Linked DNA regions of Homo sapiens. Changing the gene in region 1 together with any one later gene gives a genetic interaction. Each region holds a gene or a part of one and is shown in the gene's direction. Other genes may lie near its edges. The genes, in order: PFKFB4 and MST1R.

Region 1 (3,807 bases):
CCTGAGGGTTGTAATCTCTGGTGGTTGGAAGTGCAAGGCCTCGCAGCTAGATTCCGTGGCTAGCCAGATGTGCTCTGTGAGAACCCTGGCCACGCTCACAGGCCTCTTTCTACTTTCTCTCTGGACAGGGACCTGTCCTATATCAAGATCATGGATGTGGGCCAGAGCTACGTGGTGAACCGTGTGGCTGACCACATCCAGAGCCGCATCGTATATTACCTCATGAACATCCACGTGACCCCCCGCTCCATCTACCTCTGCCGGCACGGGGAGAGCGAGCTCAACCTCAAGGGCCGGATTGGCGGGGACCCAGGACTGTCCCCTCGGGGCAGGGAGGTCAGTGCATGTGTCCCTGCGTGCGCACACGGGCCTGCATTTGTACCCTGCGTGGCTGGGTATATGCATGTGTGAGTGCGCTGGGGCTAGGCTCCCATTCTTTTAATGTGCAGTCGAGGTGAATGACCTTCATTCAACCTAGAATCTTCCCATCATGTAGGGAAGGTCATCAAGCAACAGGCAAATGCCTGGATCTCTGGTTTCCATGTGAGCTGTCACTCACTGAGCCCCTTTTGTCAGAGGCATGCCACCCTTAGAGCGACCTGAGTCCATACAGTGTAGCAGATAGCTGTGCCACAGTCCAGGGGAGACCTCAGTGGTCACGTAGCACAGGGCACCTGGTTGTGGGGAGGCAGTGGCCCTGATGAGTCTCAGCTGTAACTGTGCTGCTGTGCTCAGGGTCTGGGAGGGTGCACAGGAACAGCACTTGTGTTCTTGTGTGTCAGCATGTGTGTCATCGACAAGTTAGTTCATGCTTTTTACCAAACCTGTAGTGAGTGTTCAAGGCGAGGGTGATCTCATGGACCCTGCGGCTATGGGATGCTTTAAGGGCAGCCCAAGACCTGTGGGTCTGAGTTTGCTTATGATGTATTTCAGTTTGCCAAGAGTCTAGCCCAGTTCATCAGTGACCAAAATATCAAGGATCTGAAGGTCTGGACAAGCCAGATGAAGAGGACAATCCAGACGGCTGAGGCACTGGGTGTGCCCTATGAACAGTGGAAGGTCCTCAACGAGATCGATGCGGTAGTTACCGTCCCTCCCTCCCTGTCTACCTCCCAGATACCGCAGGGCTGCTGCATCATATTGTAACAACAGTGACCATTGCTCCCCTTGGGCAAAGGAGAGGAGAGAGAAAGGATACAGGAACCTAGGGGCTGGGAGCAGAGAGGAAAAGGCAGCCTAACAGGATGGGACCTTGGGTGAGCCCTAGACCATTCTCAGGAGTGAGCCTGGGAGTTGACACCTCAACCTCACTCTCCTCCCTCCCTGTGGCCTCCTGCTAGGGTTCCTCATGGTCTAGCTCAACAAGAAATCAGCGGCCACGGGAGCTTGGTAGCTGCAGTCAGCCATAGCCAACCTCCCAGGGATCTGGAGACACAAATGAGGTGAACCAGCACGGCCTTTGTCTCTTTAAAGATGCTGTTCTCGCCAGGTGCGGTGGCTCACCCTTGTAATCCCAGCACTTTGGGAGGCTGAGGCGGGCGGATCACCTCAAGTCAGGAGTTTGAGTCCAGCCTGGCCAACATGGTGAAACCCCATCTCTACTGAAAATACAAAAATTAGCCAGGCATGGTGGTGGGTACCTGTAATCCCACGTACTCGGGAGGCTGAGGCAGGAGAATTGCTTGAACCCAGGAGACAGAGGTTGCAGTGGGCTGAGATTGTGCCACTGCACTCCAGCCTGGGCAACAGAGTGATGTTCTGTCTCAAAAAAAAAAAAATGCTCTTCTGCTGACTTCTGGGTTGCATTGTTTCTAAGAGAAGTCTGTTGTCATTCTCATCTTTGCTCTTCTGGATATAATGTTACCTCCTTTTTCTCTGACTGCCTTTAATATTTTCTTTTCTTCTTTTTTTTTTTTTTTTCAAGACAAGATCTTACTCTGTCACCCAAGCTGGAGTGCTGTGGTGCAATCATAGCTCACTGTAGCCTCAACTTCCTGGGCTCAAGCCATCCTCCCATCTCAACCTCCTGACTAGCTGGGACTACAGGCACTTGCCACCATGCCAGGCTAATCTTTTCTAATTTTTGTAGAGACGGAGTCTCATGATGTTGCCTAGGCTGGAATATTTTCTCTTTATTGCTGATTTTTAGCAATTTGATTATGATGTATCTCAGTATGGTTTTCTTTATGTTTATCATCCTTGGGGTTTATTGAGATTCTCGGATTTCTGGGTTTCTAAATATAAAATGTGAAGAATTGTTGGCCATCATTTCTTCAAAGGTATTTTCTGCCACCCCTTCTCCCATCCTGGACTCCCACTCTGTGTGTGTTAGACTGTTTGGTATCATCCCACAGGTCACTGAACTTCTGGTTTTTTAATTTCTTCTGTTCATTTCTTCTCTGTCTTTTTTTCCTTCCGAGCTTTAATTTAGATAGTTTCTACTGCTATGTCTTCAAATTCACTTATCTTTACTTCTGCATTTTTATTAAACCCATCCAGTGAACTTTTCATATCAGATGTGGTGTTTTGAAGCTCCAGGAATTTCATTTTGTTCCTTTTTTGAATCTTCCATTATTTCTTCATTATGCTTGGCTCTGCAGTCCAGGAAGTGCCTCTGGGCAGTAAGCTGCTGCCTCCTCCCCTCAGCTTGCTTCCCTTCTCTCAAGGATCACAGTCCTGCCTAGTCTCGTGTCTAAAAACAGTTGTTTGATTTGTCCCTTTATTTATTTATTTTTTTGAGACGGAGGTTTGCTCCTGTTGTCCAGGCTGGAGTGCAATGGCACGATCTCGGCTCACTGCCACCTTCGTCTCCCGGGTTCAAGCGATTCTTGTGCCTCAGCCTCCAGAGTAGCTGGGATTATAGGCACCCGCCACCACACCAACTAATTTTTGTATTTTTAGTAGAGACAGGGTTTCACCACGTTGGCCAGGCTGGTCTTGAATTCCTGACCTCAGGCAATCCACCCACCTCAACCTCCCAAAGTTCTAGGATTACAGGTGTCAGCCACAGCGCCCTGCCAATTTGTCCTTTTTTAATAATAGTTGTTTTTGTTGGGGCCAGAGCAAATCTGGTACCAGTTGCTCCATCATGGCTTGGTCTTTATTATGGGTGGTTCCCATTTCAATATGAAAAGCTTTTTCTGTGGATATATACTTTGACTAATTTGAATATTACCACCCCTGCTTTTGTTTTTCCATTTTTTTTTACTGTGGTAAAATATGCATAACATAAAATTTACCATCATAGCTGTTTTGAAGTGTACGTTTCAGGAGTATGAAGTACATTTACATTGTTATGCAACTCTCACCACCATGCATCTCCAGAACTCTTTTAATCTTGTAAAACAGAAACTCTGTACCCACTGAACAATAACTCAAGCCAGATGTGCTGGCTCACACCTATAGTCCCAGGTACTTGGGAGGCTGAGGTGGGAGGATTGCTTGAGCCCATGAGTTTGAGGCTGTGGTGTGCTATGATTTCATTCACGATTGGCCCTTGCACTCCAGCCTGGACAACATAGTGAGACCCCATCTCTAAAAAAATTTTAAAAAGAAAAACAATAACTCTATTTGCTACTCCCAGCCCCTGGCAACCACTTTCTGTCTTTATGACTTTGACTACTTTATATACCTCATATAAGTGAAATCATATAGTATTTGTCTTTTTGTAACTGGTTACTTTAGTTAGCATAATATCCTCAAGGTTCATCCATGTTGTAGCTTGTGCAAGAGTTTCCTTCCTGTTTATTTTTTAAGACAGCATCTCACTCTGTCACCCAGGCTACAGTGCAATGTGGAAATCACTGC
Region 2 (4,513 bases), 1.4 Mb from region 1:
AAACAGAAGAGAGAACTCTGGGAAATCACCTAGTCGGAACTACGTTTTCTTTTTCTTTTTTTGGAGATGGAGTCTCGCTCTGTCACCCAGGCTGGAGTGCAGTGGCACAATCTCAGCTCACTGCAACCTCCACCCCCTAAATTCAAGCTATTCTCCTGCCTCAGCCTCCCTAGTAGCTGGGATTACAGGCACCCACCACCACGCCCGGCTAATTTTTGTTTTTAGTGGAGATAGTTTCACCATGTTGGCCAGATCTGTCTGTTCACCATGTTGGTCTTGAACTCCTGACCTCAAGCGATCCACCCGCCTCGGCCTCCCAAAGTGCTGGGATTACAGGCGTGAGCCACCACGCCCGGTCACATATTTTATTTTAAAAACATTTTTAGCAGTTTTTTTGTTTTGTTGAGTTTTGTTATGTTGCCCAGGCTGGTCTTGAACTCCTAACCTCAAGCAATCCTCCTGCCTTGGCCCCTCAAAGGAGTGCTAGGATTACAGGCATGAGCCACGGTGCCCAGCCCAGAACTACATTCTCATTGAAGAGAATAAGATCCAGCAAGGCCTACAGAGCATGTTGGAAGTGTCCTGAGAGCCAAAGCCCATGATTCCTCCATATCAGGGGGGCACTGGGTAGAGCCAGGAAGGAAGGGGGAGTCCCCAAGGCCCATACTGTGGACCCCATTATACAGCTTCCATATACTGAGGCTGCAGAGGAGGTATGGGCCTCCACTTACGTGCCTCTCTGACTCTGAGGTCCAGTCAGCAAGGCCAGATCCCATCCTAAGACCCTTATGGCCCTGGGAGAGCAGGGCATAACACACCTTCCTCTGACACCATCTTGTCGCTGATAGCTCAGGAGAAGCACATGGAAGAATGGTCCCGGCCGGGCGCGGTGGCTTACGCCTGTAATCCCAACAGTTTGGGAGGCTGAGGCGGGCGGATCACCTGAGGTCAGGAGTTTGAGACCAGCCTGGCCAACACTGTGAATCCTGTCTCTACTAAAAATACAAAATTAGCCGGGTGTGGTGGTGCGCGCCTGTAATCCCAGCTATTCAGGAGGTTGAGACAGGAGGAGGTTGAGGCTGGAGAATCGCTTGAACCTGGGAGGCGGAGTTTGCAGTGAGCCGAGATCGCGCCACTGCAATCCAGCTTGGGCCACAGAGCAAGACTCCTTCTCAAAAAAAAAAAAGGACAGTCCTTTCCCACAAAGGGTGGCGCCCCATAACATCTCTTGTAAGTGCCCCACATCTCCCCTCTGGTCTTCCACACAATCCTGGTCTCTGTTCTCCACATGGTGGGCCCCCAGGCCACCTCTGGGCACCAGCCACTGAGGGTGTTGCTACTAAGTGCAAACTAGTTCCACCGCAAGCAAAGAGCCCAGTGTCCTGCCCCCCTTCTCGCTGCGAACCAGTCGGTAGTGGGGGGATGGGATGGGACGGCTCAGACTGGCTCACCTCTCTCCAGGCCACACCATGCACATCCACCCACAGGCCGCTGAGAAAAAGGCGCCAAGACGCCAGGTGAAGGTACAGGAGCCAGGCCTCCAAGGGCCGGAAGAGTCGGATGGGCGGAGGGCCTGGGCTAGGCCAAGCCTTCCTCGCGGCCCCGCCCCCACGGCCCGACTCCGCCCGCCCAGCCCGGCGCCCTCGGGTCGGCTGAGCGCTAAGCGCCAGTGTACAGCGGCGGCTGGGGCGGCAGGTGAGGCGGCTGGGGCGTTGCTGTCGTGCGTCCGCAGGCGTCAGGTGCTCAGACCCGAGGGCCGGGAAGGGATTTGGGTTTCACAGGAACCTGGGGCGGGGGTCCGCTATCTTGGGGCTGTCGGGACCGCTGCTTAAATTTGGCCCAGTCCAGACCTCGAGTCGGGCCCCCAGCCAGGCCCACGCCCAGGTCCAGGCCCAGGCCGGTAGGGATCCTCTAGGGTCCCAGCTCGCCTCGATGGAGCTCCTCCCGCCGCTGCCTCAGTCCTTCCTGTTGCTGCTGCTGTTGCCTGCCAAGCCCGCGGCGGGCGAGGACTGGCAGTGCCCGCGCACCCCCTACGCGGCCTCTCGCGACTTTGACGTGAAGTACGTGGTGCCCAGCTTCTCCGCCGGAGGCCTGGTACAGGCCATGGTGACCTACGAGGGCGACAGAAATGAGAGTGCTGTGTTTGTAGCCATACGCAATCGCCTGCATGTGCTTGGGCCTGACCTGAAGTCTGTCCAGAGCCTGGCCACGGGCCCTGCTGGAGACCCTGGCTGCCAGACGTGTGCAGCCTGTGGCCCAGGACCCCACGGCCCTCCCGGTGACACAGACACAAAGGTGCTGGTGCTGGATCCCGCGCTGCCTGCGCTGGTCAGTTGTGGCTCCAGCCTGCAGGGCCGCTGCTTCCTGCATGACCTAGAGCCCCAAGGGACAGCCGTGCATCTGGCAGCGCCAGCCTGCCTCTTCTCAGCCCACCATAACCGGCCCGATGACTGCCCCGACTGTGTGGCCAGCCCATTGGGCACCCGTGTAACTGTGGTTGAGCAAGGCCAGGCCTCCTATTTCTACGTGGCATCCTCACTGGACGCAGCCGTGGCTGCCAGCTTCAGCCCACGCTCAGTGTCTATCAGGCGTCTCAAGGCTGACGCCTCGGGATTCGCACCGGGCTTTGTGGCGTTGTCAGTGCTGCCCAAGCATCTTGTCTCCTACAGTATTGAATACGTGCACAGCTTCCACACGGGAGCCTTCGTATACTTCCTGACTGTACAGCCGGCCAGCGTGACAGATGATCCTAGTGCCCTGCACACACGCCTGGCACGGCTTAGCGCCACTGAGCCAGAGTTGGGTGACTATCGGGAGCTGGTCCTCGACTGCAGATTTGCTCCAAAACGCAGGCGCCGGGGGGCCCCAGAAGGCGGACAGCCCTACCCTGTGCTGCGGGTGGCCCACTCCGCTCCAGTGGGTGCCCAACTTGCCACTGAGCTGAGCATCGCCGAGGGCCAGGAAGTACTATTTGGGGTCTTTGTGACTGGCAAGGATGGTGGTCCTGGCGTGGGCCCCAACTCTGTCGTCTGTGCCTTCCCCATTGACCTGCTGGACACACTAATTGATGAGGGTGTGGAGCGCTGTTGTGAATCCCCAGTCCATCCAGGCCTCCGGCGAGGCCTCGACTTCTTCCAGTCGCCCAGTTTTTGCCCCAACCCGGTAAGCTGAAAGAAGGGGCCCTTACTTGTGAGCTGCATGCACATGGCTGAACACAGGCTGCTTCCCTTCCATCACTGAGGGGATCTGGGGGCGCGGTGGGGGGGCAGGCGGAAAGAAGCATTCTCTCTCACCCAGTTCCTAAGTGCTGGGGTGGTGTGAGAAACCAGCCAGACAAAGGCTACACTGGAGGCTTAGCTCCCAGGCTGGCCCTTGTGGCTGCCTCATCTTGCTCTTTCCCCTACCTGCCCATCATGGCCTCTGGTTTTTTAGGTAGTTTCCCTGGCTATGTGAGGATAGGGTTACATAACCGTGTCTCTGTTAGCATAGCTCCTGAATGCTGGGTAGAATGATGGGCATTCCCTCCTACTTGTCCACCACCCATATCCTCAGGGACACACGCAGAAAAATAGCACTCCCCCCTCCCCTCCCCCACCCCCGCCACCACCACCACCACCACGCACAAATACACAGGGAGATGCTCACAGATTCACAGACTCACAGCTGCTTGCCAACAGTTTCACTTTCCCTTGTTTTGCTCTGCTTTCCAAAGGGGGTGGGACGGGAGTTGTCAGAGAATCTCCCCTTCCTCCACACCCCCTCCCCCCACCCACCCCCATCCTTCTGCCAGCCACCACGTTCCAGGGAGCCTCCTGGGCCTTGGAAGTTGGGAGCTTGTTAGGGAGCCTGCATGTCCTGGGCTTCACTAACGTTTTTGCCATGATTGGGGGTGATTGGGGGAGTACCCAGAACTCATGGAATGGCAGCTTGGTTCTAGAAGGTTCTGGGAGCCTCACTCTAGTCTTGTGCAAGCAACTATAAACATCTGGGGATAAGTAAAGGCCTAGGAAGGGCTGGTTGGAATTGGTCCATCCCAGACTTTTTTTTTTAACTGTATTTGGAGCCCTACCCCAGGCAGGAAGTCTCAAAGCCTGTGCTGAACTGGGGGCTCCTTCCACAGACTCTATCTAGGTTCTCTCCAGCCATCGTGTAGGCAACAGCAGTAAGATTGGACCAAGGAATGGGACCCACAGCTACTGTTCTTAGATTCTCTAGCTATCATCCTGTGGCCCTGGGCCTGCTGTGACATTCTCGAAAGACTCCTTTCCGCTCCTATTGATGCCTCGGAGATGGGAGAACTTACACCCAATGTGAGGTTGGGGGTCTTTAGCCTCCCTCCCTCTGCTGAGTACATCTGGGTTGAGAGGCCCTAGGGTTGGGGACTCCTTGTCTGGGCCTGGGCAGGCCTGCCTGGCCCCTTCTCCTTCCCAATGGGGAGTCAGAACCTCTCCCCAGCTTGCCTAGTGGTCAGTGGGTCAGAAGACACCCAGCACGGCTGGGCAGTGCCAGGCTC

What was found.
Region 2: changes in PFKFB4 (region 1) and MST1R together harm fitness less than expected from each alone (positive genetic interaction), as found in Homo sapiens cells (one large-scale study listed by BioGRID).

Annotation. Positions count from the first base shown.
Region 1 is NC_000003.12:48,532,785-48,536,591, reverse strand, and holds part of PFKFB4 (6-phosphofructo-2-kinase/fructose-2,6-bisphosphatase 4), read left to right. Parts: intron 1-128; coding exon 129-336; intron 337-933; coding exon 934-1,080; intron 1,081-3,807. UniProt on the Homo sapiens protein: Synthesis and degradation of fructose 2,6-bisphosphate.
Region 2 is NC_000003.12:49,901,029-49,905,541, reverse strand, and holds the start of MST1R (macrophage-stimulating protein receptor isoform 1 preproprotein), read left to right. Parts: upstream 1-1,668; 5' UTR 1,669-1,932; coding exon 1,933-3,162; intron 3,163-4,513. UniProt on the Homo sapiens protein: Receptor tyrosine kinase that transduces signals from the extracellular matrix into the cytoplasm by binding to MST1 ligand. Regulates many physiological processes including cell survival, migration and differentiation.